Regions from separate parts of the Homo sapiens genome. Here region 2 is linked to region 1. Evidence: fine-mapped expression QTL. A gene starts in region 1. The other region holds a variant in brackets. All regions are shown on one strand. Distances are between the middles of the regions.

Evidence for each region. PIP is the estimated chance that this variant, and not a neighbour inherited with it, causes the effect. A credible set is the group of variants that fine-mapping cannot tell apart.
Region 2: its variant is the best candidate, but not a certain one, in a credible set for the expression of MYO5C in regulatory T cells (Bossini-Castillo 2019, PIP 0.62).

What each region holds. Positions count from the first base shown.
Region 1 is chr15:52,287,331-52,302,704 of GRCh38, reverse strand. MYO5C (myosin VC) reads left to right here and starts at 6,901. Exons shown (of 41, transcript NM_018728.4): 1 at 6,901-7,095. The coding sequence starts at 7,069. It overlaps LOC105370819 (a long non-coding RNA gene), which reads right to left and starts at 7,821. Exons shown (of 4, transcript XR_932250.3): 1 at 7,494-7,821; 2 at 2,659-2,831; 3 at 309-393. RefSeq lists a silencer at 7,078-7,237 and enhancers at 8,679-8,848, 9,722-9,771.
Region 2 is chr15:52,118,742-52,134,115 of GRCh38, reverse strand. It overlaps GNB5 (G protein subunit beta 5), which reads left to right. Exons shown (of 13, transcript NM_016194.4): 9 at 647-738; 10 at 5,872-5,920; 11 at 8,072-8,168; 12 at 9,477-9,643; 13 at 11,348-15,374. The coding sequence ends at 11,359. Among named protein-coding and RNA genes, the nearest start is that of BCL2L10, 14 kb to the right of the region's middle. The variant TC/C (reference allele first, on the strand shown) is at 6,301.

The DNA of each region.
Region 1 (15,374 bases):
ACAAGGACCAGTATGCAGAGCTACTACATTATCAGAAATATCTTGATTATAACCAAAAAATTACAAGACATGCAAAGAAACAGGAAAGTATGACTTATAAGCAGAAAAAAAAATCAGGCAACAGAAACTGCTTATAAGAATAACAAGGTGTTAGATTAACAAAGATTTCAGATCAGCCATTATAAATATATTCAAAGAACTAAAGGAAACTATGATTAAAGAATACATTTGATGAATGACAACAACAATACAAAGAACAGGAGGGAGGAATAGGAACCTTTTGATATTATAAGGTACTTGTACTGTACCTTATACACTGTAAAGTGATATCATGTTCTGTGAAGATGGGCATGGATTCGTTATCAATGTGTATTGCAAACTCCAGGGCAACCACTATAAAAAGTAAAAATAGAAGTGTAATTAATATGCTAAGAAAAGAGAAAAAACTGAATCACATTAAATGCTCAATTAAAACCACAAATGGCAGAAAAAAGAGTGGAAGACAAAAAATAGAAACAAGACCAAGGGCAACAAATAGAACAGTAACAAATATGGTAGATATTAATCCAAATCTATCAGTAGTCTGTGTAAATGTCCATGGTCTAAGTACACAAATTAAAAGACAGATTGTCAGAGTGGATCAAAACACAAGACCCAACTATATGTTGTCTACAAGGTGATTCTAAAATTCAGGTGGAATTGCAAGGGACACCAAATAGCCAGAACACTCTTGAAAAACAATAGCAAAGTTGGATGACTCTAATTTCAAGGCTTACTACAAAGCAACAGCAAACTAGACCATCTGGCACTGAAAGTAAAGATAGACATAGACATCAGTGGAATATAATTTAGAGTAGGGAAATAAACCTATGTGTTTATGATCAATTGATTTCAACAAGAGTGCCATAACCATTCGATGGGGAAAGAATAGTCTTTTCAACAAATAATGTTGACACAACTGAATAGCTAATGCAAAATAATAAAGTTAGGCCTTTATCTCATACCATATACAAAAAACAAACAAAACTCTGCTGGATGCAGTGGCTCACATCTATAATCCTAGTGTTTTGGGAGGCCAAGGTACAAGGATCACTTGAGGCCAGGAGTTTAAAACTAGCCTTGGCAATGTAGTGACCCCATTTCTACAAAAAAAATTTATCTAGGCATGGTGGCATGCACCTGAAGTTCTAGATACTACAGAGGCCAAAGAGAAGAATCACTTGAGCCCAGGAATTTGAGGCTGCAGTGAGCTATGATCATACCACTGTGCTCCAGCCTGGGTAACAGAGAGAGACCTTGTCTCAAACAAACAAAACAAACAAAAACTCAAAATGGGTCACAGGCCTAAATGTAAGAGCTAAAACTATAAAACTTAGAAGAAAACAAAAGGATAAATCTTCTTGACTTTCGATTGACAAAGGGATTCTTAGATATGACACCAAAAGCACAAATAACAAAAGAAAAAATAAACCGAACTTCATCACAATTGAAAACTTTTGTGCTTCAGTGAACACTGTCGAGAAAATGAAAAGGCAACCTGTATAATAGGTAGAAATATTTGCAAATCATATATCTGATAATGGAGTCGTATCTAGAATATATAAAGAACTCTTATTACTTAATAATAAAAAGACAATTTTAAAATGAACAAAGGATCTAAATAGACATTTCTCCAAAGAAGATACACAAAAGCACATGAAAAGATGCAGATGCCTGGCATGAGGGAAATGCATATGAAAGCCACAGTGAGATACTACTTCACACCCACCAAAATGCCTAGAACCAAAAAGTCAGGTAATAACATGAATTGGCAAGGATGTGGAGAAATCAGAACTCTCAGGCACTGCTGGTAGAAATGTAAAATGGTGCAGCCACTCTGGAAAACAATCTAGTAGTTCCCCCAACAGTTAAAGAACAGAGTTACCCTATGACCCAGCAATTCCACTCCTGGAAATACCCAAGAGAAATGAAGACATATATGTTCATACAAAAACTTGTACATAAATGTTTATAGCAACATTACTCCTAATAGCCAAAAGGTGGGAACAACCCAAATATTCATTAATTGATTAATATAATGGAATGTTACTTAATCCCTAAAGAATCACTGAAAAGTTAACTCAAGAAATAGAGTTCTTTTTAGGGGGGAAATTTAAATTATGCACTTAATAAAAACTATCACCAAAAAATTCAAGAAAGGGGAAACAGAGGGAGAAAAATACATGTGCCATATAGAAAACAACAAATGGCAGACATAAATCCAACCATATCAAAGACTACAAGAAATGTGAATGGATTACACACCCCAATAAAAAGGCAGAGATTATCAGACTGGATTTAAGAAAAACAAAAACAAACAACAACAACAACAAAAACAGGCACAGTGGTGCATGCCTGTAATCCCAGCTACTTGAGAAGCTGAGGAAGGAAGATCACTAGAGTCCAGGGGTTCAAGACCAACCTGGGCAACTGTTCTGTGTGGGAGACCTGCGAGGGGAGAAGGCACACACAATACTTTTAAGGGTAAACAACTTTATCCCATGTAAATGGCAATGCAGATAATAATAAGCAGATGATATAATAAGCAAATTGATATAATAAGCAAATTGCAATGGGAAGGGGAGAAAGGATAAGATATATATATATATTTACACTCACCAGACTATGGAGAATTCACCACCAGACCCGTAAGCAACAGCCTGGGCTCCAGAGTCGGCCACTCACTGGTGTAGATGAGGAGAGGTCTCATGAAGCTTCAGTGCAGTCTGGGACCCAAGCTCTTTTTGTAACAAGTTGTTTGGCATGAGGCCCAATCAGGAGGCCCTTTGCGACTGGGCTCAAGGAACCCAAAAAGTCAACTTTTTTTTTTGCAATTGTTGTTTTTCAATAACTAACGTATAGGAATAGATTGAAATGGGGATTTCTCCAAAAAAGTGCTGGATGAATGCCTTAAGGGGCTCACACAACCTATTCTGGGACTTGGTGACCATTGTTTGTGTCCATGTTCAATTTGATATTTAACTTTTCCTCCACAGCAACATAGCAAGACTCCATCTCTAAAAAAAAAAAAAAAAAAAAAAAAAAAGAAAAAGAAATAAATAAAATGGCCAGGTGTCAGGTGTGGTGGCTCACGCCTGTAATCCCAGCACTTTGGGAGGCCGAGGCGAGATCACGCCATTGCACTCCAGCCTGGGCAACAAGAGCTAAACTCTGTCTCAAAAAAAAAAAAAAAAAAAATTCCATATCCTAAATGTCAGAGTTCTAACTATAACACATCTAGAAGAGAATCTTTATGAGCTTAAGCTAGGCAAAAATTTATTAGATAACAACACCAAAAGCATGATCCACAAAATTAAAAAATGATAAATTGGACTTCCCCCAAATTTAAAGTTTTTGTGCTGCCTAAGACACCATGAAGAAAATGAAAAGACAATCCATATAGTGGGAGAAAATATTTGCAAACCATATATCGGTAAAGGGTTTGTGATCAAAATGTTTAAAGATGGTAGATTCAATACCTGTATTTACTCAACCTTCCTCCTGAAACTCCGGTAAGTAACAATAAACTCACAAAGGAAAACAGAATGAATGAGGAATGACAGCAACAGCTTGGAAGATGAAAAACAGATGGATAAATGTCTTTTATTTTCACAAGCAAAGAAAACTGAAACCTAACCCGGGACAGGCAGAAGCCCAGAAGCAATCCAGTTTGCACTACATAATTCCGAAAAGCTCAGGAATTAGGTTCAGAGGCAGCAGGTAACACTGAAAGTGGCATGCAGCTGAAAACACAGGAATTGGTTGAAAATCTGTTTAAATAGCAGTTCAAGTGGACTTGAACAGACATTTCACAAAAGAGAATACCAAAGTGGTCAATAGTCATCATAGAAATAAATGCAACTTGGACCCACAGTGAGACATCATAACACACTCATCAGAAAGGCTATTTTTTAAACTGACCACATCAAGTGGTGAGGATATTAAGCAACTAAAAGTCTCACACACTGCTGGTAGAAGTATACATTGATATAACAATTTTTTACAAATCTCTTTAGCATTATCCGTTAAAGTTGAGCATTACATACCTGTGATCCAGCAATTCTGCTCTGTTTATGTGCCCAACAAAAATACATATATTTGTGCATCAAAAGACACATATAAAATGTTCATAGCAGCATTATTCATAGTGGGTGTAAACTGAAGCAACCGAAATATTTATCAATAGGAGAATGAATAAATTGTAGAATATTTATACAATGGAATACTACTAGACAGGAATGAAAGACCTCAAACCGCAGCTACATGCAACAAGATGAATAAATACCATGTAAAAAGCCAAATGCAAGAGTTACACATGTGATTCCATTTATTAAAAACATCCAAAACAGGTAAAACGCATCTATGGTGATACAAATCAGAACAGTGGTTATCTTTGAGAGAAAATGATTTGAAGAAACAGAGAAAGTTTTGGGATATCGGTAATGTTCTACGTCTGGATCTGGGCGGTGGTTACTTTGGTGTGTTGATGTGTTCCATGAATAAGAATATATTGAGCTGTACACTTATTATTTGCACACTTTTCTGTATATAATTTTATTCTTCAATAAAAATTTTCTTTAAATAAAAAAGGCAGCTAGATTCTCTTTTTAACTCTGAGCAATCAGGCAGCTGTCACTACTCACCTTATAGATTTTCTTTTTCTTTATACAAAATAGAATTATTTGGGCAATAATATAAATAATTTTGTATATAAATAAATGCAAAATTAAATTTACCATGATCCTCTCTTTGTGGCATTTATCATTATTGATCCATGCCAGGCCTCTCTTTATATTTTTTGATCCCCTTTTTGAAATCTCCGATTCCATTTCTCTCCCTCATAGGTATCCACTCTTGCATATTTAATGAATGACTTTGTAATTTATCCTCCTTACCTCTATTCACACATACTTGTACCCATGAACAATATTCAGTATTGCAGTTTTTGTGAGTTTTTAAATATTAAAGACTTGGGCTAGACATCTATTCAACATTGTTTTTTATTTCTGAGTCAAGTAGATCATGTCTATTCCTACTAACAGCTGTAGAGTTTTACATGTATATACTATTTCTTTTTTTATTTTTCTCTGCTGTCTGCCATGTATATACTATTTTATTTATTCCCCTATTGATATTTAGATGCTTCCAACTCTTTGATAAATAACTATGTTGTGATGAACATCTACTTAACTGTCTCTTTGGGTGACTGTGAGAATTTTTCTGCCTACATTTATTTTCATAACTATTCTCAAATTGCTCTCCAGGATGGCAGTATATTCCCACCAGTTATGTAAGCAAAAAAAGTTTTTATTTTTTTTATTTATTTTTTTTTTTTTTTTGAGACGGAGTCTCGCTCTGTCGCCCAGGCTGGAGTGCAGTGGCGCAATCTCGGCTCACTGCAGGCTCCGCCCCCTGGGGTTCACGCCATTCTCCTGCCTCAGCCTCCCGAGTAGCTGGGACTACAGGCGCCCGCCACCTCGCCCGGCTAATTTTTTGTATTTTTAGTAGAGACGGGGTTTCACCGTGTTAGCCAGGATGGTCTCGATCTCCTGACCTCGTGATCCGCCCGCCTCGGCCTCCCAAAGTGCTGGGATTACAGGCGTGAGCCACCGCGCCCGGCCAAGTTTTTATTTTCTCACATCCTAGGCAGTATCTGAGATTGTCTAACCTAAATGTTTTTGCCAATATGATGGGTAAAAAGCAATATCTCATTGTTGTTTTCATTTGTATTTATCTGATTACTGCTAAAGTTGACATCTCCTTGTATGCTAACAAGCCATTTAAGTGTCCCCATCTGTGAATTGCCTATTAATTTTTGTCAGTTTTAAAAATTGGATTTCTTTTCTTTAACCGATTAACAATTCTTCTATATGGAAACTACTATAACCCAACATTTTAAAGATATTATCCCTCTTTTATTCCTAATAATTTCCCGGTTTTAAGTTTTAATCGTGAATCCATCTGGAGCTTATTTTTGGATGCAGTGTTTGCCACGGATCTGCTTTTATTGTTTTTCCATATAACGGGCCCATCTAATAAATATTATTTTATTTCCCTATCTGGTCCTTAAGGCTACCGTATAATGTAGGGCCCTGCTGGGGGGCTCCAGCATGTTCCATTACTCACGTATCCGTTCTCACGCAAGTGTCACACTGTTTTAATGACTACTGCTTTGTTATGTCCCTAAATATATGGCAGGACAAATCTCTCCTCTTTGAGAATTGTCTTAGTTATACAGGGCTTTTATTCTATATGAAATATAGAATCATTGTACAATTCTCCAAAAGTTCTGTAGGATTCTGACGCCAATATATTAGGCATATATATTGATTTGGGTAGAAGTGACACCTTGACCATATTAAATATTCCCAGCCAGGAAAATGGCATGTCTCCCGTTTACCTGGGCCTTCTTTTAAGCTCTTTAAGAGAATTTTAAACATTTTCTCCACAAAGGCCAAGGGCATTTTTGCGAGTGTAATCTCTGGATACTTTATATTTTCACTAATATTGTAAATATCTTGTATTGCATAGACAATGCTCATATAAAGGACCATTACTTATTTTTGTATTTGATTTTGAATACGATGACCTTGCTGGACTCTTAACACATTTCTTTGTGTTCAGTACGTTGATTCCCTTGGGTCTTCCATTTAAATGGTCGTATCCTCTGCTCTTTGAGGAGCTAACACTCGGGCCGGGCAGCCTCCGGATGCATCTGTTCCTGCCTGGCAGCGCGCCCCGGGCCCCAACCTTCTCCACCCGCGCTCCCGCCAGGTGCAGCCGCCCGGCCCCGGCCAATGGCAGCGCCGACTAGCCGGGCCAAGCTTGGAGGGACCAATCCCGCCGCTGCCCCCTCCCCTCGCCGCCAACTCGGGAACGGGAACAGGAGGCCGTTGGAAAACTTTGGGCAAGATGGCCCGGCGGTGATTTCCGCGGCGGTCTCTCCTGCGCCCGGCCTCTGCGGCGCAGGCCCAGCCCCCGAGCCTCGCACGTTCGGCAGCCCCGGCCTGGCCCCGGCCCCTCCTGCCCATGGCGGTGGCCGAGCTGTACACGCAGGTAGGAGGGTCCGCTGGGCTCCTGGGAGCGCTGTGGGGGAGCCGGCCCTGCTAACGCTGACTCGACCTGGCGCCCGGGCCACACCTGCCACACCTGCGCACCTGACACGGCAGGGCGGGCGGGCGCGCGCTGGGGGCCGCGGAGGCGCCGCGGAGGGGCCACGGGGACCGGGGACACGAGCGAGCGTCGCCCCTCCAGGGCCCCGGCGTGCTCCGTCCCTGCCCGCGGGTAAGCCCCCTCCTGGCTCCGCTGCGCCTGGGTGCCCTGTGGGTGGGAAGACCCTGTGGGAGGGGCCGCCCCCTCCGCCGCTCCGGCCTCGGGGCCTAGAATCCCCAGTGCCCAGGGGTCGCGCGTGCGTCCCCATCTCCCGGGACTGGAGCGCCTCGGTCCCTTCCTACCACACCACGGGTGGAATCAGAGTTGCCCATGCGGACGTAGGAAGCTGAGACGCCGGCCAGTCTCCTGGCCCCTCCTGGGACCCCCTTGAACGAGCTGGCATAGAAGCTTATGGCCGCAGTGTTCGGGCTGCTTTCTAGAATTCTGTGTCTTCAAAGTGCGTGAACGTGCATGTAGGCTCATCAGAAGCTGAAGCAGCCTGGGTCACAGGCTTGAGGGCACTGCAGTGGCACCAAGCGCTTGGGGAGCCCAGGGGCCACGAGGTGCAGTCGTAGGCTCTTTGCCTAACATCTGTACTGTTAGCAACAGTACAAACACCACAGTTTCTAAAGCGCCTTTCATATACCCTGACTCTGGGAAACACTAGAGCATTCCTCAGAAGCTTCCTTTCTGCTGGCTGGGGCTCCACCTCTTACCTCGGAAGGGCAGCGTTCCCACATATGTCCCAAACCCTCTGAGATGGGCTTGGGTAATTATTTGGATAAAGAGTGTGACAGTGTTAGCACTTTTGAAAAAAAAAATCCATTTGAATAGCCATAAAGCCTGATCCTCCTATACACCAGTTGGGGAAATCTAGAGACCTCAGTATTCAGACGAGTGGAACTAGAATCCATCCATTTCCCCGGACACATGCTCTAGCTTTCTACTTTAAAAGATGCTTTTGCTGTAGATAGAAAAGATAGTTATTTAAAAAATCATGTTTCAATGGTTTAAGCAAACGTTTTTCTTCTACTTTGATTACTTAGTAACAGTCCGGACACAAAGCAACCGAACTGTAGTTTCTCCTCTATTGCATCTCCATTAACTGGAGTTCTAAATGGACAGTGTTTGAATTGCCCTAGTTTTGTTCTAGAATATTTTCACCAGTGAGACTGTGAGCCCTCAGACAGCCAACAGCGCTTCTTCAGCCTTCAGTTTACTGGAAGTGAAAGAAAAGTCTTGGACTAGTCTTCGACGATACTTTGGAGGACAGAGAAAAATGCTGCTGCTGAACCTATTTGAGGTGACAGTATTTCCAGAAGCAGAAACACACAGGTGCAAGCACCCCTATTTTTAGGTGCCTCAAACCTCAGATATTTATTAAATGTCTAGTAAGTACCAGGCACAATGTAAGAAAACTGATAGGAAGGAGTTTAAAGGTACAAGCTTGGAGGGAATGAGAATCTGAGAATCCCAGAGACTGACGCAGCCTGATGGCCATTCCCACTGACCTTGTGTCCACGTAGACACCTGTGTTCCTAGGCTGCCACCTCCCTTCCTGGTGGGCAGTTAGCCCCCATTTTGTCTGTTCTGGAGGTGTGAAGGGGAGGGCCATGGCAGCCAGAGAGCGAGGTCAGGGCTTTATTCCCCAGTGTGGGTTTTGAGTGGGGGCTGGCAGAATCAAGGGTGGTGTGTTAGGACTGTTAGATTTGTTATGTATGCCAGCAGCGCCCTTGGGCTGTGGAGGAGAGAGGCCGGGGTCACGTAGCTGAATTCTCAGGTCATTCCAGCTGTTGGAAAAGAATTAGAGCTGCAGTGTTGGCCATGGAGGGTGGAGGCAGGTGAGGCTGAGAGGCTGGACTGGGGAGTGGGGTGGGGGTTGAAGGGACCAGCCAAGGATGACATTTGAGGTTAGAGTCTGTATGAGAGACAGCAGGGTGGTGCCCTTGAGTGAATTAAGGATGTGGCATGAGGAGGAAATATTTCTTAAGAAAGTCATCAGGCAAGTTCTGTATTTGCAGGGGTTGAAGGGGTGAGGGGGCTTCCAAGGGAAGGTGCCTTGCAGGGTGGGAGGTGTCAGAGGGAGGGGATGGGCCCTGCCGAGGGTCTTCTGCCCAGAGGTGGTCACTGAAGCCAACAAGACACTGAGGGTCTCACCAAGGTGGGAGAAGGCAGACAGAGAAGAGGGTGAGGGACAGGCCAGCGGGGAATGCATCTGTGCAAGGAGTGAGAGGAAGCAGAAGGGCTGAGATGGAGCCATCCAGAGGAGGAGCTAACAGGGGAGCTGGAAGCCACCCTGTGGGAACAGGGAAGAGGGAACTCCAGGAGAAGTCTTGGTGAGGGGAGCAATCGCTGCCAGGTGAGGTGTAAAATCATCCATCTCTTTTGAAAAGCTACAGGTGCCATGCCTTAGAAATGTTCAGAGCAGCAGTTCCCCTATTTGAAATCTCTCTTAAGAAGAGCCGGTCTGGCATTCTCTGCTCTACCACCTCTAGAGGCTCCCATTGCTTTCAGACTCACTGACCAGCCACGAGGTCCTGCCTCTCTCCCTGCCTTCCTGCTCTTACCTGGCTCATGCTCTGCCAGACTCCTTGCCATTCCCTCAATGCCTTGCTTGCACGTTGCCACTGCGTGCCTTGGCACACGAACTCCACCTGTCTGAGCCTCTGTCTGTCACCTTTGCTCATGGCACCTGCACCTTCCACCTTCAATTTGAGCAGGACCTCTTCTGAGAAAGCCTCTGCAGCTAGCCCCTCCACACGGTGCCTTCCATATTGCCTGGTAACAGCTCGTGAACTCTGTGTCTCCACTATTGACCAAGAGCTTTCAGTGAGCAGGGGACAGTGGGAGCTTCATAAATGTTTGATGTGCACCTGTGTGCATGACTGAACGTTTTTGCTTACAGAAATAGCTAGGACCATGGAGACGATGATATGGATGATGTTATTTTTATCTCTATGTGCTAGATGCCATCCTCAGAGTTTCATGTGCCGCCTCTCATTTAATCTGGATAAACAACTCTGTGTGTTAGATGATCTCACACTTTTAGAAATGGCTCAGGTCAGGTAAGTTGCTAAGGTAACATACAAGTGATGGAGCCGGAGTTGAAAACCTATGTTCTTAGTGTCTCTCACTACCACCACCTTGGTTCAACCGCCTTTATTATCTTCCTCTTCTTCAAGGGATCTGACCTTTTCCCCGCACACAGTGGGCTTGTGAGAAGTTCATCCACTTTCTACCTACCTCTCCTGACACCTGCTTATTTGTATTTTTCCTTATAATAACTAAATTGGAACCAATCCCAGTGTCCAGCAAGAGGGGTAAAGTTAAGTAAATTATGGAAGATTCACATGGTAAAACAGCATGAAGCCATTAAAAGTACTATTTCTGAAGAGTTCATAACATGAAAACATGGTTATGTGAAAAATGGGGCACAACAGTTTATATACTGTATGAAGATAAATATAAAATATGCGGCCGGGTGCGGTGGCTCACGCCTGTAATCCCAGCACTTTGGGAGGCCGAGGCGGGCGGATCACGAGGTCAGGAGGTCGAGACCATCCTGGCTAACACGGTGAAACCCCGTCTCTACTAAAAATACAAAAAAATTAGCCAGGCGTGGTGGCAGGCGCCTGTAGTCCCAGCTACTCAGGAGGCTGAGGCAGGAGAATGGCGTGAACCCGGGAGGCGAAGCTTGCAGTGAGCCGAGATCGCGCCGCTGCACTCCAGCCTGGGCGACAGAGCGAGACCCTGTCTCAAAAAAAAAAAAAAAAAAAAAAAAACATAAAATATGCAAACAAAGAAAAAAGACCACACATATCACTGCCTAAAGATTGGACGGTCTTTCTTTCTAGTAGCTGCAGAGAAGTCAACAAGGATGAAGGCTGGGGATGGGTTGTTAGGTTTGGCCGCTAGTTTTGGTCCCTGGCGTCGTTTCTGTTTGGGTAGAACTGTGAAGGGGAAAGGGAAAGTCTGACATGACCCGTGAAAGGGAGGAAACCAGCAGAGGACTGCAGTTTGAAGACATAAGAAAGGCACCAGGCATGGGTTAACCTCAGAAAGGAGTGAGGGCCTGAGGCCACAGTGGCAGGAGTTGAAGGCACAGAGATACTGACAGAGAAGGAAGAAAGCCCAGAGAGCTTGACAGCTGCTGAGCAGGAAGGGTGGGTAGGACAGACGGCTTGAGGAGAGTGACAGTGCCACCAACCATTTCTCTGACAGCATCATTCCAGACCCTCAGCATCCAGGCCACCTTCCTCTGGGTGAATTTTCACACCTTGATGCCCATTTTAGTGGCACTATTCTCTAGCCTTGATCTGCTCAGCCATGAGTACGGTGCAACTTCTTGTGAGCATCCCTCAGTGTATCCTGGCATTATGTTAGTGCTTTAAGCAGAGCTGGTACATGCTCTGCCCCTGGTGGGTCAAATCAAGTCCTGGTCCTGCCCCTTACTAACTGGGTGACACCAGGCAAGTTACTTAACCTGAGTTTCCACACCAGTATAATGGACTGAATCATGCTTACCAGCTGAGGAGGTCACTATGAGGATTAATGGCGTGTAAAATCCTTAGCACAGCACCTGACACATAATGCTTAATAAAGATTACTCAAATACTGATGCTATTATAATACAGTTGATTTTTTTTACCTAAATACAGACTTTACATTTATCCCTATAAAATTTTCTGTTTTGTTTAGTGCCCAGCGTTTCTGTAGCTTGTAAAAACCTTTTGAATCTTGATCATCTTTAGCTAATCAATCATTTCATCTGCTTGTTTGATACATGTGTTTTGTTTTTTCATCTACGATACTGGTGAAAGTGTTGAATGAAAGGGGAGGCGGTAGAGCTCTGTGGCATGCCTCTGGAGACCTTTTTTTTTTTTTTTTCCTAAAGGTTGCTCTTGCTCATTAATTAGAACTCAGGTTATGACTGTGTAGTGACAGGTTCACTACAGTCATTCCACCATCTGTTTCTTTCACTTGTGCAAGAGGAACTCACAAATATCTTCAAAGTTCTGCTGAAACTCAGATGTGCAAGGTCAAAAGAAGTGTCTTGACTAGCAGTCCAGGGCCCCTGTCTAAAATGAGGTCAAAGTTCAGCGTAACGATTTTTTTTTTAATTTGGCTAATTCTAAATAGTTTTTAGACTTCTATATACCATTAACAACTCTGGAAAATTAAATGTATCCATTGTATTATGTATGGGTAGTTCAAAGAGAAAAAAAGGGATGAAAAGACTGAAATACTTAGTCTTTAATTGGTGCAACTGAACCACTGGGAATTTGAATTTTTGTTCAAAAGTTGTTTATGGAGTGCTAGTTATGGGAAGCCTTTGCATTGGATTCCAAGCACAAAGACCAGGCTCTTAAAGTTCAAATGCCAGTGGGGGAGATGGGAGGCAGCCTAGATACCTGGGGGAGGAGCAGAGAGCGCTCAAGGGAAGCATCCAGCTCTGCTAGATGGCAAGTGGCAAGGAGAGTGCCAAGATGAGGAGTGTCTCCAGCTACTCCAGACTGTTCAGAGCTGTTTGCTCTTGGATGGGGAGAGGATGGGTGGGGCTAGGGTGGAAGGAACAGAAGTACACAGCAGAAAGCCAAAGAAGGCCTGCCATGTTCCAGAAAGTGCTAGTGGTTTTGGGTGGCCACAGGCAGAGGGTGGATTGAAAAGAGGGTGAGGCCTGAGCAGGAAATTGGCCAGAATGCTGGTTGCCCAGGCCTGGCTCTTCCTCAAAACCCATGTGGGGGTTGATTTTCAAAGCTTTTCTCTTGCCGGGCCCCACCCACAGGAATTCCAATCAAGTACGGATGAGAGAGTCTGTCTGCCCAAAGAAACCTCGTGCTCAGCCTGGCTGAGGAAGCCTCCGGGGGCTGCTGCACCAGTCAAGAGAGGATTGGTGGGGGTAGGGTTGGGGGCTGACTTATGGCCATGGCAAGGGGGCTGGTAGGCAGGGGCGGACAGGAGAGGGCTTTTAAAAGGCAGTCTTTTCTAGCACCTGGTGACTGTTGGGCTGTTGGGGTGGAGACACAGAGGGGTGCCCAGCACTGTCCCAGGCTTCTGACATGAGGGGCAAGAGAGCTAGGAAGGAGGAGCGTCGGCATCACTGGAGTTTGGAATTTATGAGTCTATGAGGACATTTAGGGGCTGACATCTTGGAGGCAATTGGAAATGTGGTGTAGAGCTCCAGTGCACGATCTGGGTGGGAGGTCTCAGATGCACAGGTGCCAGGCAGTTGCAGAAGCTGTGGAATTGGGTGGAACTCTCCAGAAACAGCCTATCATGAGAAGAGGCTGGGAAGGACCTTGGGAGACACGGACATGGGGGGCAGTGGGAGGGGCAGGGGAGCCAGGGGAGGGGCCCATGAGGAGCGAATGAAGAGGAGGAGGAAGAGAGGGGCATGGTGTGACAATCTGGCCTGGCTGACCTGGAGTGTGGACACTCCCAGTCCAGAAAGCGGTTCTAGGAGGGAAACACATGTCGTCCCATCTTGTCCCATCTTCCATATAAGTCTTCAAGTCATTTCTGTGGCTCATGCCAGAAGATCCCTCAGAAAAGCAGGCGGCGTGAGAAGATGCTGTTCTCATCTCACCTGTGTGCCTTGGGGGGGTGGCTGGCATGGTCTTGAGCTCATAAGGTTCAGTGGTCCCGAGCCTCTGCCTCAGCTTGGCGCCTTGGCATGGGGAGGGCACTCAGGGAAGTTGGGAGGTGGCCCTCTCTTTCCTGGCTCCGCTGAAGGGCTTGGCGAGCTGTTCCATCCCAGTCCACAGACTCCTGCCTCATGGGAAGGCCCCATATTCTGGAGGTCAGTTGACAGCTGGTTACATTGTTTGCATGAACTGCGGACTGCATCTGTTTGGATGAATGCTGTAAAGTTAACTCTTCCTCCAGTTTGAAGCATTGCTTTGTGGGTAGAGGAATGTGAGGGAGGAGGGGACAGGAATGAATGGGTGGAACTTACCCGGAGCTGAGTAAACTCACCGTTGTTTACTTACCAGGCTGGGTTTCAGCTGCAGGGCACTCAATGCCAGCAGAAGCACCAGGATCGCAGGGTGTGGGCGGCCTGGGGTACTGGGCTGAGGAGTCACTGGTCTTCAGAAGAGAAGCCGTCAGTGGTTACGTATGTCCTAATACTGCCTGCCATTTAATACCACTTTTAGCTGAAACCAATCCTAAATTATAGTTAGGAGAGCACATGGACTCTCAAGTAGATGGTTGCAGTTCAGAGTTCAGGATTACTTTCAGGGCCAGATTCGCTTAACTAATACGGAGTTCAAACTAGGAGTCACAGGCCCTAGCTCTGCTGGAGTCCTGGTCCTTTGAGACTCTGTCTGCTGTTTGGTGAGTTATTTCTCTCTGGGCTTCAGTTAGGGGCTCTGTTAAACAAAAGGATTGATTGGCCTAGTGACTTTCACATTACTTCTCAGAGCCCAGGCTTCCTTGGAAGGCCCCCAGGGCTCTCAGCTCCAGCTCCCATCAGAACACCTCCACTTTCACCAGCTTCGCTTAGCCAGCTGTTACAACTTAATTTTTTTTTTTTTTTGAGACGGAGTTTCACGCATGTCACCCAGGCTGCAGTGCAATGGCAAGATCTTGCCTCACAGAAACCTCCGCCTCTCGGGTTCAAGCGATTCTCCTGCCTCAGCCTCCCAAGTAGCTGGGGTTAGAGGCATGCGCCACCACGCCCAGCTACTTTTGTATTTTTAGTAGAGACGGGGTTTCTCCATGTTGGTCAGGCTATTCTCAATCTCCCAATCTCAGGTGATCCACCCACCTCGGCCTCCCAAAGTGCTGGGATTACACACGTGAGCCACCGCGCCTGGCCAGAACTTCCTTTTGAAGTAGGCTTTCTGCAGCTCTAAAAAGGAGTTTGACAAACAACTTGGAGTAGATAATCAGTTCTGAGACTCTGTAGTGGCCAATTCTTGATAAATTTGGTAATTCATGTACAATTCTTTTGGGGGGCATATATTTTGATATTTGCCTTTAAAGATTAACATTCATTGTTCTGATTATGAAAGTAATAGGTACATATTGTAGAAAATACATCCAACTCTCAGGTGTCTCTTATGAGGATCCCATTCCTAATCCATTTTAATGAAGTAAGCTTCATGACGTTAGTAATAAATATTTTCAATAGCAGACCTGGGGTAGGAGCTGTGTAGCCCGTGGCAACAAGGATGGGTGTG
Region 2 (15,374 bases), 170 kb after region 1:
TATAGGTGTTGAGGCAGACGCCCAGGGAGGTGACTTGCCTAAGCCACCCTGCGCGTCGATGGCAGCACCCTTATGGGCCCCTGGTTTGCAGATTCCCAGCCCAGCATGCTGCTGAGGGTGCAGATGGCCCGGGGCACCTGGCTCTCCAGCTTTGCTGAGGGCTGCCCCATACACCAAAACAAAGCTGGGACTCTCGGCTGCTCCATTTGGGCACTGCCAACCCATTTATTAATGTCACAACTAGAGAGGTCCCACCACACACCACTGCCTGCCTGCCTTGCCCTCTGGGCTTAGGGAGGCAAGTATAAAGAGAAGAGAGAAAAGAAGGAAAAATGAAAGGAAGGGAGATGCCCGGGGGAGGGTAAGGAGGGTTTGCCTCCATTCAGAAATGTGCAAAAGAAGAAAACAAGCTAAAAGAGGAAGCCGAGTGCCTTCCCTCCTGCCTCCCATCCCAAGACCTAGTTCTAGGCGTCTAAGGGCTTTCTGACTAAGGAAAGTGCCCTCAGGTAAAGCTAGTCTCAGAAAAGTGTGTTGTCAACCATTTGCTAATGGGAAATAAATGGTCTGTGTTATATAACTGGGACTCGTGCCTTGTCTATAGACATTCCTTAAAGTGGCCATAACTCTGGCTAATTTTCATTTGTAGGGATGTGACAAGAAAGCCATGGTGTGGGACATGCGCTCCGGCCAGTGCGTGCAGGCCTTTGAAACACATGAATCTGACATCAACAGTGTCCGGTCAGTGAGTAGAATGTTCATGCCACCTCTCTGTTCTGCCGGCATTGCCTGGCTTGGGTAATCCTTAGCCCAGGAACCGCCTCCAGACTCAGTTTACTTGGCTGAGAGAGGCCTCCCCGGGAAGAAAGGCTGATTGTGGTGGAACTGAACAGTGCTCCAGAACTCATGGAGAATTTTAATTTAATTACATTAGGAGCAATTAATATCCTCCCTAAGTTGAATCAGCATTTTTCATCCATTCATTCAATAAATATTTATTAAGTATTTATATGCTAGATATTATTCTAGGAACTGGGAATATATCAGTGAACAAGATGGACAAGGTCTCTATTCTCTTACAGGAGACAAACTAGACCAAACACAAATATACAATTTCAGATACTGATAACTACTATGATAAAAGTAAAACAGGGAGATGGGATGGGTCATTTCTTAGAGGTCAAAGACAGCCTCACTGAGAAGGTGATCTTTACATTGAGGCCAGGATCATGAAAGAGCCAGGCAAGCAAAGAGCTGGGGGAAGAGCACAGAGATGAGAGGTTAAGGGACCTAACAAAAGGCCAGGTGGTCACTGGAGAGTTTTGAGTTGGGAGGGGTAGGGGTGGCTAACCTGATCATGTTTTGCCTTTAAAAGATCGCTCTGTTGGGAAGCTGAGGCGGGCAGATTGCTTGAGCCCAGGAGTTCGAGACAAGGCTAGGCAACATGGCTCAACCCTGTCTCTACCAAAAAAAAAAAAAAAATTAGCAGGGCATGGTGATGTGTGGAGGAGGCTGAAGTGGGAGGATCGATTGAACCCAGGAGATTGAGGCTACAGTGAGCCGAGATGGTGCCATTGCACTCCAGCCTAGGCAACAGAGCAAGACCGTGTCTCAAAAAAAAAAAAAAAAACCCAAACAAACAAAAAAGATCACTGGCTGTATGGAGAATACATTGTAGGGAACAAGAATGGAAATATGATGACCAGTTAGAGGTGGTTGTGTGAGTTCAAGAAAGAAATGATGGTGACTGGAACTAAGGAAGACATGGTGGAGACAGAGAAATGTCAAGAATTATGAAATATCTGAGATTTTATCTACCTACAAGTTAACAAGTTGGGCTGTCATAGCTCATGGATGCTGGTAGAAGACACAAGACTCCTGGGTCAGAGATGAAGGACAGTTTATTACTCACAGCAATGGCAGTAGCCAGGCTATCAGCCTGTTTGTGCATACTTGAGCCCTAGTTCCACAGGGAGACATGAAAAGGGCCAAATGACACTGGCAGATGCAAGGGATGCACTATAGAAGAACCCTGAGCTTAGGGAACCCACATCTTTTATCGAGGGCAGCAAGCAGCAGTCCATTTACTAAGACAGGGAAGACTGGAGGGATAGCGGGAGGAGGTGGGCTTTGCACATGGATTTAGGAGTTCTTTTGGGGGCTAATTAGGTTTGAGATGCCTGTTAAACATTCAAGATGTCAAGTAAGTGGCAGGATCCATGAATTAGATCCCAAGAGAGAGGTCAGGACTTGCCACGTATGAAAGATGGTACTGTTGAGACAGTTTATAAAGTATTTTCATTATACTCAGAACTCCCAAGAATCTTCATTATACTTAGTGGGAAAACACGAGAATTATTTCTCTTAAAAACAAGAACAAAAAAGAATACTTGCTTACTTTAGTACTTCTTGCCCTCAAATGTGGGATAAGGAAAAAAGAAAAAAAGACTCACTTATTGTAACTGTGCAGTAATTACCTAGAAAATCAAAAGAAATCAATCTGAAAATTACTACAGATAGTAATTGAAGTTAGTAAAATGCAAGATAGAAGATAAAGCCACAAAAATAAGCCCCTGTGTATTAATAAAGTACAGTCATTCCTTGGTATCTGTGGGAGATTGGTTCCAGGACCTCCCTCAGATACCAGAATCCTACATAAAATGATGTAGTATTTTCTCAGGGTATGCTGAAGTTATAAAAATAAATAAATAATAAAATTAAAGTGGTATAGTATTTGCATATAGCCTATGCACATTCTCCCGTGTACTTTAAATCATCTCTCAATTACTTACAATATCTAGTAAGTGTAAATGCGATGTAAATAGTTATTAGACTGTATTGTTTGGAGAATAATGACAAGAAAAAAGGTTCAGTACAGATGCAACATTCCTTTTTCTTTTTTAGAATATTTTTAATCTGCAGTTGATTTTATCCATGAGTGTGGAATCCATGGCTATGGAGGGCCAATGTACAGCTTTAAAATGCACACACTCAGCTGGGCACCGTGGCTCACGCCTGTAATCCCAGCACTTTGGGAGGCCGAGGTGGGCGGATCACTTTAGGTCAGGAGTTTGAGACTAGCCTGGCCAACATGGTGAAACCCCGTCTCTACCAAAAATACAAAAATTAGCCAAATGTGGTGGCACATGACTGTAATACCAGCTACTTGGGAGGCTAAGGCACAAGAATCGCTTGAACCCAGCAGGCAGAGGTTGCAGTGAGCTGAGATCGTGCCACTGCACTCCAGCCTGGGCAGTAGAGCGAGACCCCTTCTCAAAAATAATAAAATAAAATGCACACTCTCTCACCTGAGCTGTTTCATCTCCCCTGAACCCTTTGCTTCTAACCTCCTTTGACCATCAGTTTTCAACTTAGGCTTCCCTCTGTCCAGAAAGCCCCCCTGGTTTCCAGGGCTGAGTTAGGTGCCCTCCTGTGTGAGGGAGACCACACTGCATGGCCAGTTTACTCATCGATCTCCTGCACTGAGGAAGTCAGAGAGAGAGACAGAGAGAAAATGTTATGGTGGTAACCAAACTTTTTAAAGTATTTATGAATTCTTAATGGCAGAAATAAAAGAAGATGTTGATAAATGGAGACATAAACCCAATTCTTGATTGATAGGGAACACTGTAACTTAAAATTTTAAATGGCCATTTTTCTATATACAGTGAATGCAGTTTCAATTAAGTTATTTTATGGAATGGTGTAAACTGACGCTGAGACTTCTGTGACGGATGCTACAGGGACTGATTCAGTGGGCCATGTTCAGGGTGCCTTTTGATTTTCTTCCAGGGCGAACACTGGCTACCATGTCCACCCAAGGCTGAGGTTATACTGAGCGTTGTCATTATTCTCTTAGCATGCCCTTGGTTATACACTGAATTAATTAGGACATGGGCTTGTATGAGAGAAGCCCAAATCACAGTGACTTAAACCAGATGGGAGTTTGTTCTCACCTTAAAATCTGAGCTGCTACGATAGCTCATTCTGTCTTCGCAACCCATTTCCTAGGATGGTGCTCAGTCTCCTGCCCCCACTGGCCTACCACCATGCCTTCTTTCCAGCTGGTTGGTAGAGGAGAGTTGCGCTTATCACTTCTGCCTGCATCCCATTAGCCAGAACATGATCACATGGCCACATCTGGCTACAGGAAGACTAGAAATATAGTTTTCATTCTGCCACCTGCCCAGGAAAAACAAAACAAAACGAACTAGTGTTTCTCAATGGGGTTCAGTATTAGCATTTTGGGAAGGACATTTCTTCATTGTAAGGGAATGTTCCATGTAAGACATTTACCATCCCTATGGCCTAGCCACTGAATTCCAGTAGCACCCCCTGGGTTTAGTGCCATTCAAAAAATCCTGCTTTTATTTAACCATAGCTATAGGAGACAGAGAGAGGGGACACTGGGGGCACAAAAGGTCTCTTCCAGATAATCTATGTATTACCTGGAAGATAATACACTTGGTCCCTGAACTTCCTACCAGCAGAAGGAAATCATAGCCCATGTGGCCCCAAATGGTATTTAATCTAGAAATCATTTTGACATTGGAATATGGATGCGTCAGATACTCCATGAATTCATAATGCTTTCAAAAATATAATGTGCCCACACTGTGATGGACTGACTGGGGCAGAGCTGAAAATGGTTAACATCTGTCATCCAGCTTTTCAATTCTCCATCCCCGTCTTTCAGGCCAATGTAAGTTAGTCACACAAAGTCAAGCTTCCCTCTCCTTTGCCAAATGTTTTGACTCTCACCTCCCGCTGGTAGGAGGAATAAATAATGTTTTAAAAGGACTCCTCCTCCTGCGGCTTTTGTGGAACTATAGGGTAGGTCACTGGTACGAGAAAGGAGAAACAGCGTGGGTGCGGTGACTCACGCCTGTAATCCCAGCACTTTGGGAGGCCTAGGAAGGTGGATCACTTGAGGTCAGGAGTTCAAGACTAGCCTGACCAACATGGTGAAACCCCGTCTCTACTAAAAATACAAAAATTAGCCAGGCATAGTGGCATACACCTGTAATCCCAGCTACTTGGGAGGCTGAGGCATGAGAATCGCTTGAACCTAGGAGGTGGAGGTTGTAGTGAGCCAAGTTCACGCCATTGCACTCCAGCCTGGGCAACAGAATGAGACTCAGTCTCAAAAAAAAAAAAAAAAAAAGGAGAAACAATGGAAGGTGTGGGGAACACAGCTGGGTGAGGCAGAGCGGAGGGGTTTAAAGACATTTGCTCTCATTCTGCCTCTGGCTTATAATTTAGGGCCCATATTTCTCACTAATCATTGAGAAGACAATGACTATAGCAGTAATAATTATCATTTATTGAATGTGATTTAATTGGCACCATGCCAGATTCTTTGCATGGACTGTCTTATGTAATCTTCACAGCAGAAAATATGCATTATTACTCTCACTTTTCAGATGAGGAAACTGAGGCTGGGCAAGAGGAAGTCATTTGCCAAAAGTATCGCAGGTAGTAAATGGTCAGTGCAGACATCCAATGTGGCTTTGTGCGTCTGATTCAGTGTCTGTGCTCATAACCACTTTCTTATCCCTGAGCTCTGGGCCAAGTCTTAGGAATTAGATATGTGATTGAGGGAAACTATATTTATAGGGGGTCTACTCTGTGTTCTGTGCCTGATATCAACACATATTATCTCACTCTGCAAGGCCAGTGTCACTGTCCCCCACTAACAGGGAAGAAAACTAGAGATCAGTGGGCCTGACATAGGAGCTTCCTCTTCCGTCTTCTGCTGCAAATGTTCCTTGAGTCCCTAGAAATAGAGATTCTGATTCCAAGGGCCTAGCATGGTTCTGATGGGCATCCAGGGTCAGGAGTCACAACCGTAGATAAAGTACTTTCTCTCTGCAGGTACTACCCCAGTGGAGATGCCTTTGCTTCAGGGTCAGATGACGCTACGGTATGTTTCTAAGTTTTTGAGAGCTTTTCCTAGTCAATAGAGGGATCTGCTAACTTATTTTAAGAAAATAACTATTTTTCTGGTTACAGAAGTAACGAGTATTCAATAAAGAAAATTTAGGGGAATATTAAATTACCTTGATCTCCTTACCCAAGAAAAATCATAGTTGGATGAATTCCTTTCTGTCTTTTTTTCTTTTTAACAAACAAAATGCTTTATAATTTGGCATTTTCACTTAACAGAATGTGAACATTTTCCCAGGCTGGTAAATATTTCTCTCCATTATATTTTCTTAGTGATTGAGTAGTATTCCATGTTATGAACGTGACATTCGTCTTCAATTTTTGGACATTTGGCTTTTCTCAAGGTTTTTTTTTTTT[TC/C]TGTTAAAAACACTACTATAAGTGTTTTTGTACCTCTCATCATTTCCTTAGCATTCTCAGACATAACTTGCTGAGCCATAAATAGACCCAGTTTTAAGGCTTTTGATACTGATTGCCAAATTATTTTCAAGAGAAAAAAATATTTTCTTGTTGCCTTCAAAATATCAAATATCTTATGAAGTAATGGTTTTCATTCTAATTTTCTGCTAAACAAATTACAAAAGAATAGATTGAGAGTTTTGAAATAATGAAAATTTAAAACTTCTGTATATCAAAGATACATAACAAAATATATATGGAAATATATTGTAACAAAATTATAACAAAATATAATTATAACAAATATATATGGAAAAATTCTTGCCACATACAGTACAGACCAAGTTGAAATCCTGTAGATACGAATGGAGTTACATAAACAATAAAATGAACACTCCAATTAAAGAAGAGGGTAAAATGCAGGTCATTTACAAAGCAGTGAATCCACAATGGCAAGTAAACACCTGAAAATATTTTCAAAGTCACCTATAATCAAAGAATTGCATGTTTTAAGTTTTAAGTCATCGGATGCCCATTTTGCCACTAGGATTAGCAAAGAAATGCCCAGAGGTTGGGTTGATGGGGAGCCTGGATCAACCCTGGGGTCAGGATAGTTGGCACCACCCTCCTAGAGGGCAGATTTGCCATATGAATCAAGAGCTTGAAAACATCTCTACTTGGCCAGGCACGGTGGTTCATGCCTGTAATCCCAGCACTGTGGGAGGCCAAGGTGGGTGGATCACCTGAGGTCAGGAGTTCAAGACCAGCCTGGCCAATGTGGTGAAACCCCATCTCTACTAAAAATACAAAAATTAGCCAGGCGTGGTGGCGGTCACCTGTAATCCCAGCTACTCAGGAGGCTTAGGCAGGAGAATCGTTTGAACCCTGGGGAGGCAGAGGTTGCAGTGAGCCAAGATAGCGCCATTGCACTCCAGCCTGGGTGACGAGCGAAATTCCATTTCAAAATAAAATATACAATAAAACATCTCTACTTCTGATCTGGTCATGCTATTTCCTGATAACTCTTCTAAGGATTCTATTTCTTAACCTAGTCTAAGGAAACCTAGTCTAAGGAAACCAGAAACACATGTAAAGATTTTTATATAAGAATAGTCATCATAATATTATTTATAAAAAAGAAAAATTAAACACAACCAAAACAACAGGGTTTGGCTAAATAGATTCTGATATATTCAATAACTATGTACATAATGTTTTTTGAAGTTCTCTTTTAATGATATGAGAAAGGACGTATAACCTAATGTTAATAAAAGCAATAATGAAACATCCAACCCATTCAGATACACACATAAAATACAAATAAGACTGAAGGAAACAGCTGAGAATTAGTAAATACCTCTAGGATTTAGGGTGACCTTCATTTCCTTCTGTTTACATTTTTGAATATTTCCAAATTTTCTACAGTGAACATGTGTCCTTTATCAGAAAAAAAAGTGGGGTCTCATTTTGTTTTTATACCTGAAGAAATTTGCTGTATTTGCCGTTTCTTTACTGACTCATAGAGATTAATAGGAATCAGGACTCTTTACTGACTCATAGAAATTAACAGGAGTCGGGACTAAAGGATGAAATAACAGTAGGGAAAACTAAGAAGTTTTTCCTTCATCTTTTAAACTACGCAAGTCACTAGCACCTACCTGTAGCTCTGTGGTCATCACGTCACCAAACTGAAGCCAGAAGTAAGTGCTTCTTTATTTATTTGCTCCCCAGTGTCGCCTCTATGACCTGCGGGCAGATAGGGAGGTTGCCATCTATTCCAAAGAAAGCATCATATTTGGAGCATCCAGCGTGGACTTCTCCCTCAGTGGTAAGATTTTATTTCAGAAACTTTTCCCAGGACTGTAAGACAGGACCAGAATGAAACTAGCGCTCCATCATCGCTCAGTTCCTTTTCATCAACTGAGCTTCCTGTGGACCAGTATGCGAAATCATCCATATTTGCACCAGTTTTCCTCCTCTGAGCTTCTGACCTCCCACTTTGTCCTGCCCCAGGCAACTTCACTCCAGGGGGAAATGAAGGCTGTGTACCCACCTAATGCTGTCCTTCAAGGCAATGAAGTGTCAGAAATTCACTTCCACAATGCTCTCAGGCATTTTCTCCCCAGCCTTTGCTTCTCTTCATGCCCCAAAGGGAACTTTTCTGTAAGGTGGAGGTGAAGCAAGAGTCCCTTCTTGGTGGGATACTGTGGCTCACGCCTGTAATCCCAGCACTTTGGGAGGCCGAGACAGGCGATCACTTGAGGTCAGGAGTTCAAAACCAGCCTGGCCAACATGGTGAAACCTTGTCTCTAATAAAAATACAAAAATTGGTTGGGCATGGTGGCGCATGCCTGTAATCCCAGCTACTCAGGAGGCTGAGGCAGGAGAATCGCTTGAACCTGGAAAATGGAGCTTGCAGTGAGCTGAGATCGTGCCACTGCACTCCACCCTGGGCAACAGAGCGAGACTCTGACTCAAAGGGAAAAAAAAAATGAGTCCCTTCTCAGTGCCTTGAAGCTCATGGCTCCTTTGTGGGAAGCTGCTGGTGAAAAAGCATAGCTCCAGAAGGATCATGTCAAAAAAAGAAAGAAAAATAGAAAGTTAAAGCAGAGGTAACAGGCTGGCTACCTGGACCACTCCATTTCCCCAGACACATCCCTAGACTAACTGCACGTGAAGTTCCTGCTACTGCCTGGAACATCTTTTCCCTGCCTTCTCTGCATGACAGACTCCGATTCAACCCTCAAGAGCCAACTCAAATGTCACTTTAACTTTCTCTCTTTAAACAAGTTTTACAAGTTGTTAACTAGCAAATGACTAAAAATAATTTACTTGTGTCTGCAGTGCCCTCCTTAATCCCCCTTCCTCTCTGGTCCCATAGCACTTTACGTGTGTAAAGCACTTGCATTATGGCTGTTACCATGGGATGCTACAGTGATCTGTTCCTTTCAGCCCCACATCCTCCAACAGGGACAGGGACTGTGCTTTCTCCCCTTTGAATCCTTGAGGCAAAGCACAGTGCCTAGGACTCAGTGCGCCTGAATCACTGCTTACTGAATGAGTGAGTAACAGTCATGTAATGAGAAACAGGAAGCAAGGAACTGGCTTAACAGCTATCATCTCACCCTGCTTCAAGGTCGCCTGCTGTTTGCTGGATACAATGATTACACTATCAACGTCTGGGATGTTCTCAAAGGGTCCCGGGTCTCCATCCTGTTTGGACATGAAAACCGCGTTAGCACTCTACGAGTTTCCCCCGATGGGACTGCTTTCTGCTCTGGATCATGGGATCATACCCTCAGAGTAAGAGGGATGGTTTTCTGTTTTCCTGTGTGTGAGAGGAGAGAGGACTGGTGACAGGCCTTCTGAAGCAGAGGGAAGGCTATCAGAGTAAGCTCAGGTGGGCCTGGTCAGCCTCGCCGAGCTCTCATTTCCACTCTGCCCACAGCCACAGAGGGAATGGGTTGCCTGGAGAGGTAGCGAGTGCTGCATCAGTGCAGGTATTCTCGCACAGATTCGACAACTGCGTATCAGCCTGTAGGTGAGGGAATAGTTAGGCTTGATCATCCAGAAAGTTCCTTTTGACCCTAAAAGTCTGATTCTTGTGATTCTAGCCTTTGGCAAACCACAGATAACCAGTCTCTCCTCCTATAGTATAGGGTTCTTATTACGATTATTGACCTTGTGATGACAAGGGTCACAAATCCAGGAGGCTGTGAAGCCCCTGAAATTATTACTTTTTTCTTCCTTTTTTTTTTTTTTTTTTTTTTGGTTTTTCTATAGCTTAATCTTGGAAATGAAGCCCCTGAAATTATATGCCAAATTTGGGGTGTATGCCTTTTGTCCTCGTGGCTTTCATTAAATTCTCAAAGAGAGCTCCATAACCTTGTTGAGTGTTGGCTCACCCAAAATACTACCAAAATAGCCTGTTTAAGCTGGGCATGGTGGCTTATGCCTGTAATTGTAGCACTTTGGGAGGCCAAGTCAGGCGGATCACTTGAGGTCAGGAGTTCCAGACCAGCCTGGGCAACATGGTGAAACCCTGTCTCTACTAAAAATACAAAAATCAGCCAGGCGTGGTGGCATGCACCTGTAGTCCCGGCTACTCGGGAGGCTGAGGCTGGAGAATCGCTTGAACCCAGGAGGCAGAGGTTGCAGTGAGCCAAGATCATCCCACTGCACTCCAGGCTGGGCAACAGAGCAAGACTCTGTCTCAAAAAAAAAAAAAAAAAGTAGCCCATTCATAGAGCAAAGCTAAATTTATTGCTTACCTCAGTGTGGAACATCAAGAATTGGTAGAGGTGTAGTGGCATCTCAGAAGAGGATGACAAAGGCATGCATGAGGTTTTTTTGGTCTGGTTTAAGGCAGGTCTTTGTTGGGGGGCACTTAATTAGGATTGGACAACTTTGTGGCATAATAGTTTTAGGATTGCTGGATGCAGGGGTGGGGGAGGGTTTCGAACAAACCCTTTAAAACTAAATAGTCATTTGATGCTCTATATTGTCCTGAGACATGGGTGTGTTTTCTAAAGAGGGTAAGTTGAGTAGTCTAGTGTTAGGATAGAGAAAAGGATTTTTGCAAAATTCCTGAAACAAATAAAAAAGTTATCTGTGAGTTCATCTTCCTGGGTAAGAGTGTCCTAAGTGAGTAGTCATGTTAATGTATATGGTGAGCTGTATGGGTTCAAATGGTTTTGGTTGTCAATCTGGAAGAGTAGCTAGGCCCGTAAGGAGGCTGCAGATGCCCCACAGACAATTAACTAAGGGAGGAGAAGATCAGGTCCAAAGAAGCACCTTTGCATTGCTAGGAGTACAGTGTTATCCTTCTAAGGCACATGAGCACCCTATTTTGGATGGAGTGTGTATGTTTGTGTGTGTGTGTGTGTACACACACATATATGTATGCCCATGCATGTGTGTGAATAGACTAATTTTATCTCTTTAAGCTCAAGTTTTATAAGTTGTTAACTACAAAGGTCTAAAAACTATCTGTTTGTGTCTTCACAGGTCTGGGCCTAATCATCTTCTGACAGTGCACTCATGTATACCTGAGAATTTGAAATCTTCACATGTAAATAGATATTACTTCTAGAGGAGCTTAGAGTTTATTGCAGTGTAGCTTAGGGGAGCAACCCATGGCTCACAGGTCACTAAGCGTCTCCAATATGACTATTAAAACTGTCACCTCTGGAAATACACTAGTGTGAGCCTTCAGCACTGCGAGAATACCTTCAAGTACAGTATTTTTCTTTTGGAACACTTTTTAAAATGTATCTGTTTTTAAGGTTATTCTAAATTATAGTAGCCTCAACTCATTCTGTCACCAGTAGAATTCAGCAGTTAATATATTCCATATTATTTCTTTGAATCAATTCATTTTCAGAGCACTTTAAAGTCTGATATTTCTCGATGTGCACTGTGATGCCTGGAACCTTCCTCTGGAAGTGCTGATTTTATGGACTGAGGACTGGTGACTGGTCTGTGATAGAAGCAAATTCCAATTCCAAATGTAATTAGACAAAAATCATTTTTTTAGAATGTGTTTTTATTGTAAAAGTATCTTTTTCAGCTTCCTGTTCTATTGTCTTTTTTCAGATACAACATTTTTGTCTATGGTGAACTGCTGTAAATGACGCAGAGAAATGCCTAAAAAGGACAGGTGGTTTGACTCATGGATGATGATGATGTCACTGTGCCACTTGGACAGGGCGTTTTCTCTGAATTGAAGGGAAAGCCAATGGTGTTTGTAAACAAATGCTTCTGAGAGCAAAGAAAAGTCTTCTGTGTGGGAACACAAGATAGTAAACTTATTTAAAAACCTATTAGTAGAATTAGTGGAAACACTTAGGTTAAAGTGAATCTTGTCCATATAAATTATATTCATGGCCGGGCGCGGTGGCTCACGCTTGTAATCCCAGCACTTTGGGAGGCCGAGGCGGGCGGATCACGAGGTCAGGAGTTCGAGACCACGGTGAAACCCTGTCTCTACTAAAAAATACAAAAAATTAGCCGGGCGTGGTGGCGGGCGCCTGTAGTCCCAGCTACTCGGAGAGGCTGAGGCAGGAGAATGGCGTGAACCCGGGAGGTGGAGCTTGCAGTGAGCCGAGGTCGAGCCACTGCAGCCTGGGTGACAAAGCGAGACTCCGTCTCAAAAAAAAAAAAAAATTATATTCATATGTATTGCATTGCAATTATAATTACATATGCAGATTGATTGATAGTCATGAATAATAACGTCTGCTCCTCTTACATAGAAAAACGATATTAAAAGAAGATCTTCTCTTTATTTGAGACTCAGAATTCCTTCTAGAAGAAGGAAGTGCTTTTTGTTATAGGATCCCTTCTTTTCCTTTTTTTGTTTTTTTGTAAGATGTAGATGCTTATTCTTTGCTTTAGAAAACTTCTCACTTAAAAAGATGGCATGCACCTAGGGGAATAAAAGGTCACCTCAGACACCAGGTGTCATTCCTGGTGAGGCCTGCCTCGTCGGTGGCCTGGGGTCTGCCGGCAGGTTCTGGCTGCACCTGAAGGCTGCGTGCACCTTGTCCCCTGGACAGGTCTCCTTTCCTGGCCCTGCTCCAGCCCAGCCCTTCTTCTAGTGGTAGCTCTGGCTTTGCAGGCCCAGCTCCAGGCCCTGCTCCTCAGAGAGACTCTTCCAGAGCTGGAGCTGGGCACAGCCATAAGACAGGACTGGACCAGATGCTCCTGTAAACATCCAGGGGTGTGCCAGGCCCACCCTCACAACTGCTTGTTCAGGTATCGTGATGGGCCACTCGGTCCAAAATCAGCCAGGCCATCTTTTCCATCATCTCACTTCAAATAAACATAATAATTATATTTGATCATTTGCAGAGCAGTTACTGGTGGTTTTATTGTACACTGGGGTCTGGGGTAGAGAGAGAAAAATGAAGGGCCTCTGCCTTCCTCCAGGGAGCCCAGAGAGAGTGCTTTTTAGTCCCAGTAGATTCCAGTCTGGGCAGGGGCTCAGGAAATGGGCCCAGTGTCTGGCCAGCTCCTGCCAGGTGCTGAAGGGGTCAGGGCACCATGGGATTCCTGAGCTCTGCTCCAGAATGTCCCACAGTGGCCCCTGGTGCAGCTGGCCTCCTTGTGGTGGCATCCCCAACCCTCTCTCCCACAGCCATTTTTTTTTTTGTCTCTGCACTGTGCCTTCCGGCTCCCAGAAGTGCAGGAAGGCACGAGAAAGGAAGGAAAGGTGGCCCAGGGAAGCACATTCCAGGTTCCATGTTTGGAGAGGTGGAGAGCATCTTCAGGATATGTGCAAAGTAGACTGTGACTTTCCAATCCAAAAAGCCACTTTAAGGGCCCAGGGAAAGTATTCCAGAGAATGCTTCCACTCCCCGCATGGGCAGGAAGCCTCCTTCGCTGTGAGCATGCGCTCTCGCAGTGGGTGCTGTCGGGATTTGCTGATGAGATACTTGATTTGGACTATGTGACAGCATGTGGAGACTCAGGGGTAAGCTCCATGGGATAGATTGTATTTTGCAGATTGAAAATAATGCTGAGTGCATTTTATAATCAGCTTTTCTTTTTTCCAGAGGACTTGGGGATAAACCTACCAAACCAATTGTGGTGAAGGGGCCAAACAGATGGGCCCCCAGGGGTGTAGAGCCTTGGGCAGCCCCCTCCTGGGCCAGAAAAAAGAAAGTTCAGGCAGAAAGGTGTGGGTGATGGGTATTTATGGGAAATATCTGTGACATGAAGCCAAGTCCAGTGCTTTAGAATGCGCGGTCAGCCTCTCACCGGTGGGGCCCTGGCAGCCGTCCCTCTTCTCCCAGGCGAGCCAGAGGTGGGCATCCCGTTGCCACTGCCCTCTTCCCGCTCTTCTACCTCCTTTGCACCCTTCTCTAGGTTATAAGTGGCTTAAAACAGCACAGGGTTGTAAGGGCCTTTGTGTCCCGGGCTCTCATAGTTGCCAGGCCAGCTGGCTGAAAGGTGGCACCACCGATACTGGGACTCCTCTGTGAGTTAGAGGGATGCCTTGGTGACATAAGAGGGCTGGCCTTCATTCACACCCACCTCTGTCACGGTCACAGAATATATGATAATATCTGAGTTTTTCTCAGCCTCAGTTTCCCCATTTGTAACATGGGATGGGACTAAAATATGTAAAGTGCCTACCTCAGCCTTTAGCACATCTTCAGGAAGGGTTAGTTCCCAGCTTCTCCCTGTGTCCTCCTCAGTCCCCTTCCTATTTGCCCCCCTCCCTTCTCCCTCCACCTATCTTCCCTCTTTCTCTTCCCTTCCCCTCCTCCTCCCTCTCTCCTCCCTCTCTCCCATTTCCCCCTCCCTCCCTCCCATCTCCTCCTCCCTCCCTCCCATCTCCTCCTCCTCCCTCCCATCTCCTCCCTCCCATCTCCTCCTCCCTCCCATCTCCTCCTCCCTCCCATCTCCTCCTCCCTCCCATCTCCTCCTCCCTTCCTCCTGTCACCCCTCCTCCCTCCCTCTCATCACCTCCTCCCTCCCTCCCATCGCCTCCTCTCTCCTTCCTATCTCCTCTTTCCTCTTCTCTGCCCCCTCCCCCTCTCCTCATTCATCCGGACTCCTTTTTCTAACCCTTCTCAATCTTCCCCCATTCCTCATCTCCTCTTCCTCTGTCTCCCTGTTCCACCTCTCTCCTGGTCTCCTTCCTTCCCCTTCTGCTGTTTCTCCCTCCCTCCTCCTCCCTTCCCATTCCCCTTCCCCCAGCACTTCCTTTTCTCCCCATCTCCTCCCCATTCCCCTTCCCCCAGCTCTTTCTTTTCTCCCCATCTCCTCCCCATCCATAGGCAGCCCCCACTCATATAGCAAATTAGTAATTCTCATCAGTTAGAGCTTCGTCTGGGCTAGTGGTTCTCAAACTTTTTGGTCTTAGGATCTCTGTACACTTTTTTTTTTTTTTTTTTTTTACGTGGAGTTTTGCTCTTGTTGCCCAGGCTGGAGTGCAGTGGCGCGATCTCGGGCTCACTTCAACCTCCGCCTCCTGGGTTCAAGCGATTCTCCTGCCTCAGCCTCCCGAGTAGCTGGGATTACAAGG